2 linked regions of the Homo sapiens genome follow. The protein of the gene in region 2 purifies or fractionates together with the protein of the main gene of each other region. This does not show direct contact. Each region holds a gene or a part of one and is shown on either strand. Other genes may lie near its edges. The genes, in order: A2ML1 and ZFAND4.

Region 1 (3,914 bases), on a different chromosome or scaffold from region 2:
CGGTAGAGCCAGACTCTGTCTCAAAAAAAAAAAAAAAGAAATTACAGTTTAGAGGTCATGCAGCCTCTGGCTCCAAGAGTCTGAACCTCCCCAAATTGCTCCTGGGGATAACATCACTGCTGTAAAACCTAAGATCAGTAATTGAGTTATTTTGCAGGCCCTGCACTCCATGGGATCAGCTGACACCACACAGACCAGTCATCTGGCCCAACCAGTTCTGCCATCTCACCCAGGAACAGAAGACATTAAGAAAATCTAACTTCGACCCTCTATGATTCCATCTCCAACCTGAGCAATCAGCACTCCCCACTTCCCAAGCCCCTACCTGCCAAATTATCTTTAAAAACTCTGATCCACGAAGGCTCAAGGATTTAAGTAATAATAAAACTCCAGTCTCCCACACAGCCGGCTCTGCGTGAATTACTCTTTTGCCATTGCAGTTCCCCTGTCTTGATAAATCGGCTCTGTCTAGGCAGCAAGCAAGGTGAATCCATTGGGTGGTTACAAAACGGGGTCTCACTATGTTGCCCAGGCTGGTCTCAAACTCTTGGGCTCAAGCAATCCTCCAGCTTCTGACTCCCAAAAGCTGGGATTATAGGCATGAGCCACTGCACTTAGACTAATTTATATTTTAGGTGACTTCTAAGTATTACCATCATAAAGAACACTGTGGGCTGGGCACGGTGGCTCATACCTGTAATCCCAGCACTTTGGGAGGCTGAGGTGGTCCCTGGAGCTCAGGAGTTCGAGACTAGCCTGGGCAACATGGTGAAACCCTGTCTCTATTAAAAATACAAAACAATTAGCCAGGAGTGTTGGTGCCTACCTGTGGTCCCAGCTACTCAGGAGGTGGAGGTGGGAGGATCGCTTGAGCCCAGGAGGTCAAAGCTGCAGTGGGCTGAGATTGTGCCACTGCACTCCAGCCTGGGTGATAAAGTGAGACTCTACTTCAAAAAAATAAAAAATAAAGAAAAGAAAAAAAAGAAAGAACAGTGTGAAAAAACTCAGTGTTACACTTGTGCATACATGCATGCTGTCCTTTTTTTCCTCATTAAGAAACATTTCCAGAGTAGGAGTTGCTGAGTGAAAGAATATGCAAATCTCAAAGGCTTTGGTGTGTATTACAAAATTGCCATGAGAAAGTTATCCACATTCTATTTTCTCTAGGACTGTGTGTGTCCCTATTTCCATACAGTCACAACAATACTGAGTAGTATTAATTTTTTTTTTTTTTGAGACAGAGTCTCGTTGTGTCACCCACGCTGGAGTAAAGTGGCATGATCTCGGCTCACTGCAACCTCCACCTCCCGGGTTCAAGCGATTCTCCTGCCTCAGCCTCCCAAGTAGCTGGGACTATAGGCACCCACCACTATGCCCAGCTGATTTTTTTTTCTTTGTATTTTTAGTAGAGACAGGGTTTCACTATGTTGGCCAGGCTGGTCTTGAACTCCTGACCTGGTGATCTGCCCACCTCAACCCCCCAAAGTGCTGGGATTACAGGCGTGAGCCACTGTGACCGGCCAAGTTTACTGCTTTTCTATTGAAACTGTTCTCATACCCGTGTTCCCAACTACACCTTAATTGAATAATAAAAGAAAATAAGGACATTAAATGAGAACAGGAATTGGAATGAGACCAGAAAAAAAGGGAGGAGTTCAAAATATGTTCTGAGAGCTTTACCATTATGAATACTCAGCTCTGGTTTTCCCCCAAAACTGGCTGAACCAGTATGGATGTTCCAGGCAGAAACAACTTTAAAGAAGTGAATAGTGGCCCTACCCTGGTCCACCACCTAACCTGGTGGTTACAGAAGGAGGAACACAGTCCTCCTGTGTTCCAGGTGCCAGGAGGTGACTGACTATAGCATCAGTCATCACTGCACACCCTACCTGGAATTAGTATATAAAGCTACGCGGAGCGATCTCTGCCCCTGACCCTGGAAAAATCTGTCTCACCCACAAAGATGTGGGCTCAGCTCCTTCTAGGAATGTTGGCCCTATCACCAGCCATTGCAGAAGAACTTCCGTGAGTGCTTGGTGTCAGAATTGGTTTATTAGGGCAGCGGCTTCTTCGCCTAACTTTCTCAAACATTTATATGGAGATGGGGAGATCAACTTTGGTTTATCTTAATTTCCTCCTCCTTTTTTCTCTTCTTTGGTTCCACTGATCCTTTACCCAGAGAGGGAGGCTGACGCATGAAGAGGAAGCTTTAAAAAAGATAAATATTAAAATGTGCCCTGTTTTCTGAAATAGGCCTAATTTCCTCCTTGGTGCTCTAGGCATGTGTGCTCGGTGAGGGCCTCCTGATGGCGGAAGTTGAAGACTGTGCACTGAGTCGTTGCCCCTCTGCTTCTTGTAGAAAATGAGGTGCATAAGGAAGGCAGGGGCTTGGTCTGTCTAATTCACTGCTACTTGCTGAGCGCTTAGGAGAGTGCTGGATTTTTCGAGTGAATGAATCATTATTGCCCTGAAATCCTTCTGCTCCTTTAATAGAAACTACCTGGTGACATTACCAGCCCGGCTAAATTTCCCCTCCGTTCAGAAGGTTTGTTTGGACCTGAGCCCTGGGTACAGTGATGTTAAATTCACGGTTACTCTGGAGACCAAGGACAAGACCCAGAAGTTGCTAGAATACTCTGGACTGAAGAAGAGGCACTTACATTGTATCTCCTTTCTTGTAAGCACAGACTCAGCCCTCACTCGAATCCCTTACTTGCCTATTCTCCTCCCTAGGCTCACTATAATCTACTTTAAGTATAATTTCTGTTATCTTTTGCCACGGCCTCTAAACCTATTTTTTCTCAACTTAACCTCAATCCCCGGCTATAACTCACCCACGGTTTCCTCGACCTAGGATTTCTCCCTTTAGTTCCTGACCTTAATTCTTCCTCGTGGTAATTTGTTTTATGTCTCTATCCTTGCTACCCCCATCTAACTCAGCTCTTTCCTTTAACTCACTGTTGGGTTGAGACCAGTTGATTCTGTTCCCCCAATCCCTTACCCCTCCCCAGAAGTCCCCTTTCTTGGTCAGGTACCACCTCCTGCTGGTGGCACAGAAGAAGTGGCCACAATCCGGGTGTCGGGAGTTGGAAATAACATCAGCTTTGAGGAGAAGAAAAAGGTTCTAATTCAGAGGCAGGGGAACGGCACCTTTGTACAGACTGACAAACCTCTCTACACCCCAGGGCAGCAAGGTAAGAGTCACATATTTGGGGTTCGACTAAAACCTGGGGAAACCGCTGTGCACAGGGGTAAAGAGGGGATTTGTGGTTTGACAGTAGGCTTTGGAAAAAAAGGAGTGCAGAGGAGAGGAAAATCTGGGGGGATTAAGTAGTGCAAGTGTTGAATACATGCTGCGCTACACAAGCAAGAGAAGTAGGTGGGGGTTGCTACTGAGTTTGTGTATCTAAAACAAAAGTACACATTTCTTCTGGAATAGAATTTGGCAAGTATAACTGGGTTGCTGGGCCTTACAACAAACTGCTTGTAAATGGCTAAGAAAGCACTGAGGGCATTTGGCTTGAGCTACTGGGGTTTTTTTTTTTTTTTTTTTTTTTTTTTGTATTTGTTCATTCGTCCTTACAGGGGCACTTCATTCTGAGATTTCAAAGTCAGGCACCCTGAAAAGAAACTATGTTTGGGTTTTTTTTATTTTTTTATTTAAAATTTTTGTGGGTACATAGCTGGTGTATATATATTTATGGGGTAGATGAGATATTTTTATACACACACACAATGTGTAATCATTACATCAGGGTACATGTGTATCCATCACCTCAAGCATTTATCATTTCCTTGTATTACAAACAATCCAATTATACTCTCTTAGTAATTTTTAAATGTGCAATAAATTATTGTTGACTGTAGTCACTCTTTGTGCTAAAAACTACAAGATCCCTAGATCTTATTCATTC
Region 2 (3,914 bases):
CATTAGAAAGTTAGGAAACAACAGATGCTGGAGAGGATGTGTAGAAATAGGAACACTTTTACACTGTTGGTGGGACTGTAAATTAGTTCAACCGTTGTGGAAAACAGTGTGGCAATTCCTCAAGGATCTAGAACTAGAAATACCATTTGACCCAGCGATCCCATTACTGGGTATATACCCAAAGGATTATAAATCATGCCACTATAAAGACACATGCACACGTATGTTTACTGTGGCACAATTCACAACAGCAAAGACTTGGAACCAACCCAAATGTCCATCAGTGATAGAGTGGATTAAGAATATGTGGCACATATACACCATGGAATACTATGCAGCCATAAAAAAAGGATGAGTTCATGTCCTTTGCATGGACATGGATGAAGCTGGAAACCATCATTCTCAGCAAACTGTCACAAGGACAGAAAACCAAACACCGCCATGTTCTCACTCATAGATGGGAACTCAACAATGAGAACACTTGGACACAGGGAGGGGAACATCACACACTGGGGCCTGTCGTGGGGAGTGAGATGGGGGGAGGGATAGCATTAAGAGAAATACGCAATATAAATGACGAGTTAGTCGGTGCAGAAAACCAACATGGCACATGTATAGCTATGTACCAAACCTGCACGTTGTGCACATGTACCCTAGAACTTAAAAAAAAAAAAAAAATCAATTCCCAAAGCATTTCTCTCATTTCTTCTGAAAAGTTTCTAAAAACACAACTCCAAGGATGAAATGGAAGTTAAAGGTAAACAGGCAATAGCGCTGAATACGTAATTTCAGTAACTCAGAATTTTCTCCAACCTCTGCTCTAAAGAAGCTTAGCTACAGAAGAGCAGTTACCTTTGAAACATTTTCCCCAACATAAAGATATCCGGAATGTGAAGCTGCCATTAAAACTGTGACACAGATCTACATTTACTGATACATCAAAACATCCCTAAAGTTCGAAATACGAGCTACAGAATCACATCAACCGCCTAACTTGTCTGTAGCCTAAACTCTAGTCCGGAGTTCATCTGCAAGCGGAATTGGGAAGTATTTCAGAGCCAGCATCTCCTCGCGCCATCCAGGTACCTACACACTTGAGGCCACCGAGTCACCTGCGCAGCCGTTGCTCCTCCAAGACCAATCCGGGCTCCCCAGACCCACCGGCCTGAATCTGGAGGACAGCAGTCCGCGTGACAACAGCGACTCGGAGATCAGCACCCGTCGGGAAAGCCGCGTACCCGTTGAAGCTGGCGTCACGCCCAAAGGAACAAACGCCAGAGCGTGTGTCCTGGGCAAAGGCGGCCCGCCGCTCCGGTCCCCGGGCAGCAGCGGCCGGCGTCAGGCCGCAAGGCGAGGGGCGGGGACAGGACTCTACCCGGCAGCCCAGCGCCGAGCGCCCGCGCCACTCCGGCCTTGCGCCATTCCGGCCCCACGACGGCCGGCGGCGGCAGCGCGGCTGGGCTCAGCGGCTCGCAGCCCGGGCGCCCCCCCTGCCGGCCGCTCGCTAGCTCAGCCTCACCCGCAGTCTTGTCCGCTGGCTCGCTCGCCCGCCTACAGGTCGACAGGGCCCAACGACCCGGCGAGCAACTTCACGGAAGGCACTGGCCGACAACGCTCCGCTGCCGCCGCGCCCCGCCCCTTTGTGACACCACCTACCAATCGCTGGACGGCGCTTTCGCTGCCCTCCAATCAGCGCGGGCGGGGGCAGGCCTGGCCCCCGGACGTGGGCGGTTGCCGGGGCGCCAGGGCCCTGGGGCCTTCTTGGCATTCGCTGGAGGTTGTGAGTTACGAGGCCCGGATGTTGATCTTTTATTACTAGCAACACTGGACCCCTGACTCGTGCCCACGCGGGCGTCTGGAGGGCAGCCGCATGGCCTGCTGGGAACGGCGGGGTTGAAGCCGGAGCCGCCCTCCGTGAGACCCACCGGGGATCCTCTTCCAGGCGCCTGATTTGCTGGAGATAGGCGATACAGGCAGACGCTGTCCAGTCGGTGGCCTCTCCAGAGTGAGGGGCGCTCCTGGTGCGTTTGGGCCGGCCTGTCCTAACAAATCTGCTTTAGGCTTCACCGTCCCCTAATGTTTCTGGCCTCAATTGCCTCATCTGGAAAATGGGGGCATTACCGTGCCTGCTTGAAGACAAAGGCGAAAACAGATAACTTTCTGTAGTCCTCATACAATTTACTGAGAACTGTAGGCCAGGCAATGGAGTAGGCACCCTGGGCTCAAATCCCAGCGTTGGGTAAGCCCAGCCACACCTCCTGCTCCAGTTTCCAAGCTGCTGAGCTGCGGTGTAAACAGTAACTGGCTTCAAGCCAACACCTGCCTTTCAACCTAACATGGGAGCCCACTGCCTCGTTCCGTTCCCCCTACCGATTTTCCAACTCCGTGAACCTCCTTCACTAAGTGGGTTACTCAGCTGACAAAGAATGTCATCTCACTCCCACTGCGGGTTCACTCATCCTCGACTTCTGGCTCAGAGGAGCCAGTCTAATATGAAACTAAACATCTAATCTGTGTCTCCTGTCCTCTCTCATTCTTCTGAGACCCTACCCACCAACTTATCTCCACAGTTCAACGAACTATTGAGCATACACTGGGGGAGTATGGTGAGGCACTGGGCATTGATTCACCAGTCTCGCCGTTGGTTCCTTCTGAAACTCCACATATGCTTAATGCTAAATAGATTGGAGACCTTTGAGGACAGAGCTATGATGGTAATCATCTTTGCATTCCTGAGCCTAGAATAGGGCCTGTGATGGAGACTTACTGAGTAAAAACCTTAGCGTTTCTCACCCTTGCCTGCCCACTTCATTCACACTGGAGAATTGACAGCATGGACCGTGGAGTCAGGCAGGTGTGTTTAAAGCCTTGCCTCCCAATACCAGAAGCTCCATTACCTGGCCAAGTCATTCATTCTTTACAACATCATCATCATTATCATCTGCCATTCTTCAAGTGCCAGATAGTTGATAAGGGTCTTTACGTATTCTCTCCCCATCACAATCCTGCAAAGTTGGTAGTGAAATCCCTCGTCTACAAAGGAGTAAACAAAAGCCAATTAAAGTAGAACAATTTACCTATAATCAAACAGCTCTATGTCGGAAAGCCATATTTAAACTAGGACACAATACAAAAATCCAACCTTGTTCCATTATTCCACATTGCTTCCAGATTTTAGCTTTATCTGTAAAATTAGTGTTACTACATTACCTATCTGATAGACCATGGAGACTGAATAAAATAGCATTAAAAGTTGTTACCATAGGAACTTTTTTTTAACGTAAGTTCTCTCTCCCTTTCAAGCCTCTCAAAATAGCAGCTTGCGTATTTTCTAAACCTGTTGTCTCCTGAATCCCCTGAAACCAATCCTACTGATTGATGAGTAGATTTAGTTGTTCCAAAAGAAAATCATCGTATTTAACAAATGCTGACTCTGACCGACATTGGGTACTACAGCAAGAAACTATGTGCACAAATAACCTACGGACAGAAGGAAGATGCATAAAATGAATAGGGGAAAGGAGTGGCCAACTAGCAAGTGCCCTCATCTGTCATCACGTCACTCTCACAGCAGACTTGGGCAAATGGTTGACCTGTGGGAGCTGAACAAAATCTTTGACTCTGGGTATGAGTAATTCCCTGTCTGATCTTACAGTGCCCAAGGAAGAAGTCAGTAGCTCCAGGATCGCTGAGACCAACCTGGGCGGCCTACAAGACTGCACCATGGTGACAGGCTGAATAGTCAGCAGCAAGACGACAGAGCACCAAAAAACACAGACTAGAATGGGGTCAGCCATCCAGGTGGCTAGTGGCTACTGCCTTTGACGATGCAGATAAAGAAAATTTTCATTCCTGCAGAGTTCTATGGGGCAGTGCTGCTCTAGAGGCTGACATTTCTATCCTCAGCACTTCCC

The links.
Region 1: the proteins of ZFAND4 (region 2) and A2ML1 purify together in Homo sapiens (affinity purification with mass spectrometry; 2 studies listed by BioGRID and IntAct, with this or other methods). This does not show direct contact.

Annotation. Positions count from the first base shown.
Region 1 is NC_000012.12:8,820,689-8,824,602, forward strand, and holds the start of A2ML1 (alpha-2-macroglobulin-like protein 1 isoform 1 precursor), read left to right. Parts: upstream 1-1,932; 5' UTR 1,933-1,963; coding exon 1,964-2,025; intron 2,026-2,493; coding exon 2,494-2,677; intron 2,678-3,031; coding exon 3,032-3,194; intron 3,195-3,914. UniProt on the Homo sapiens protein: Is able to inhibit all four classes of proteinases by a unique 'trapping' mechanism. This protein has a peptide stretch, called the 'bait region' which contains specific cleavage sites for different proteinases.
Region 2 is NC_000010.11:45,671,160-45,675,073, forward strand, and holds the start of ZFAND4 (AN1-type zinc finger protein 4), read right to left. Parts: upstream 1,614-3,914; 5' UTR 1,091-1,613; exon of another isoform or gene 904-1,090; coding exon of another isoform or gene 853-903; intron 1-852.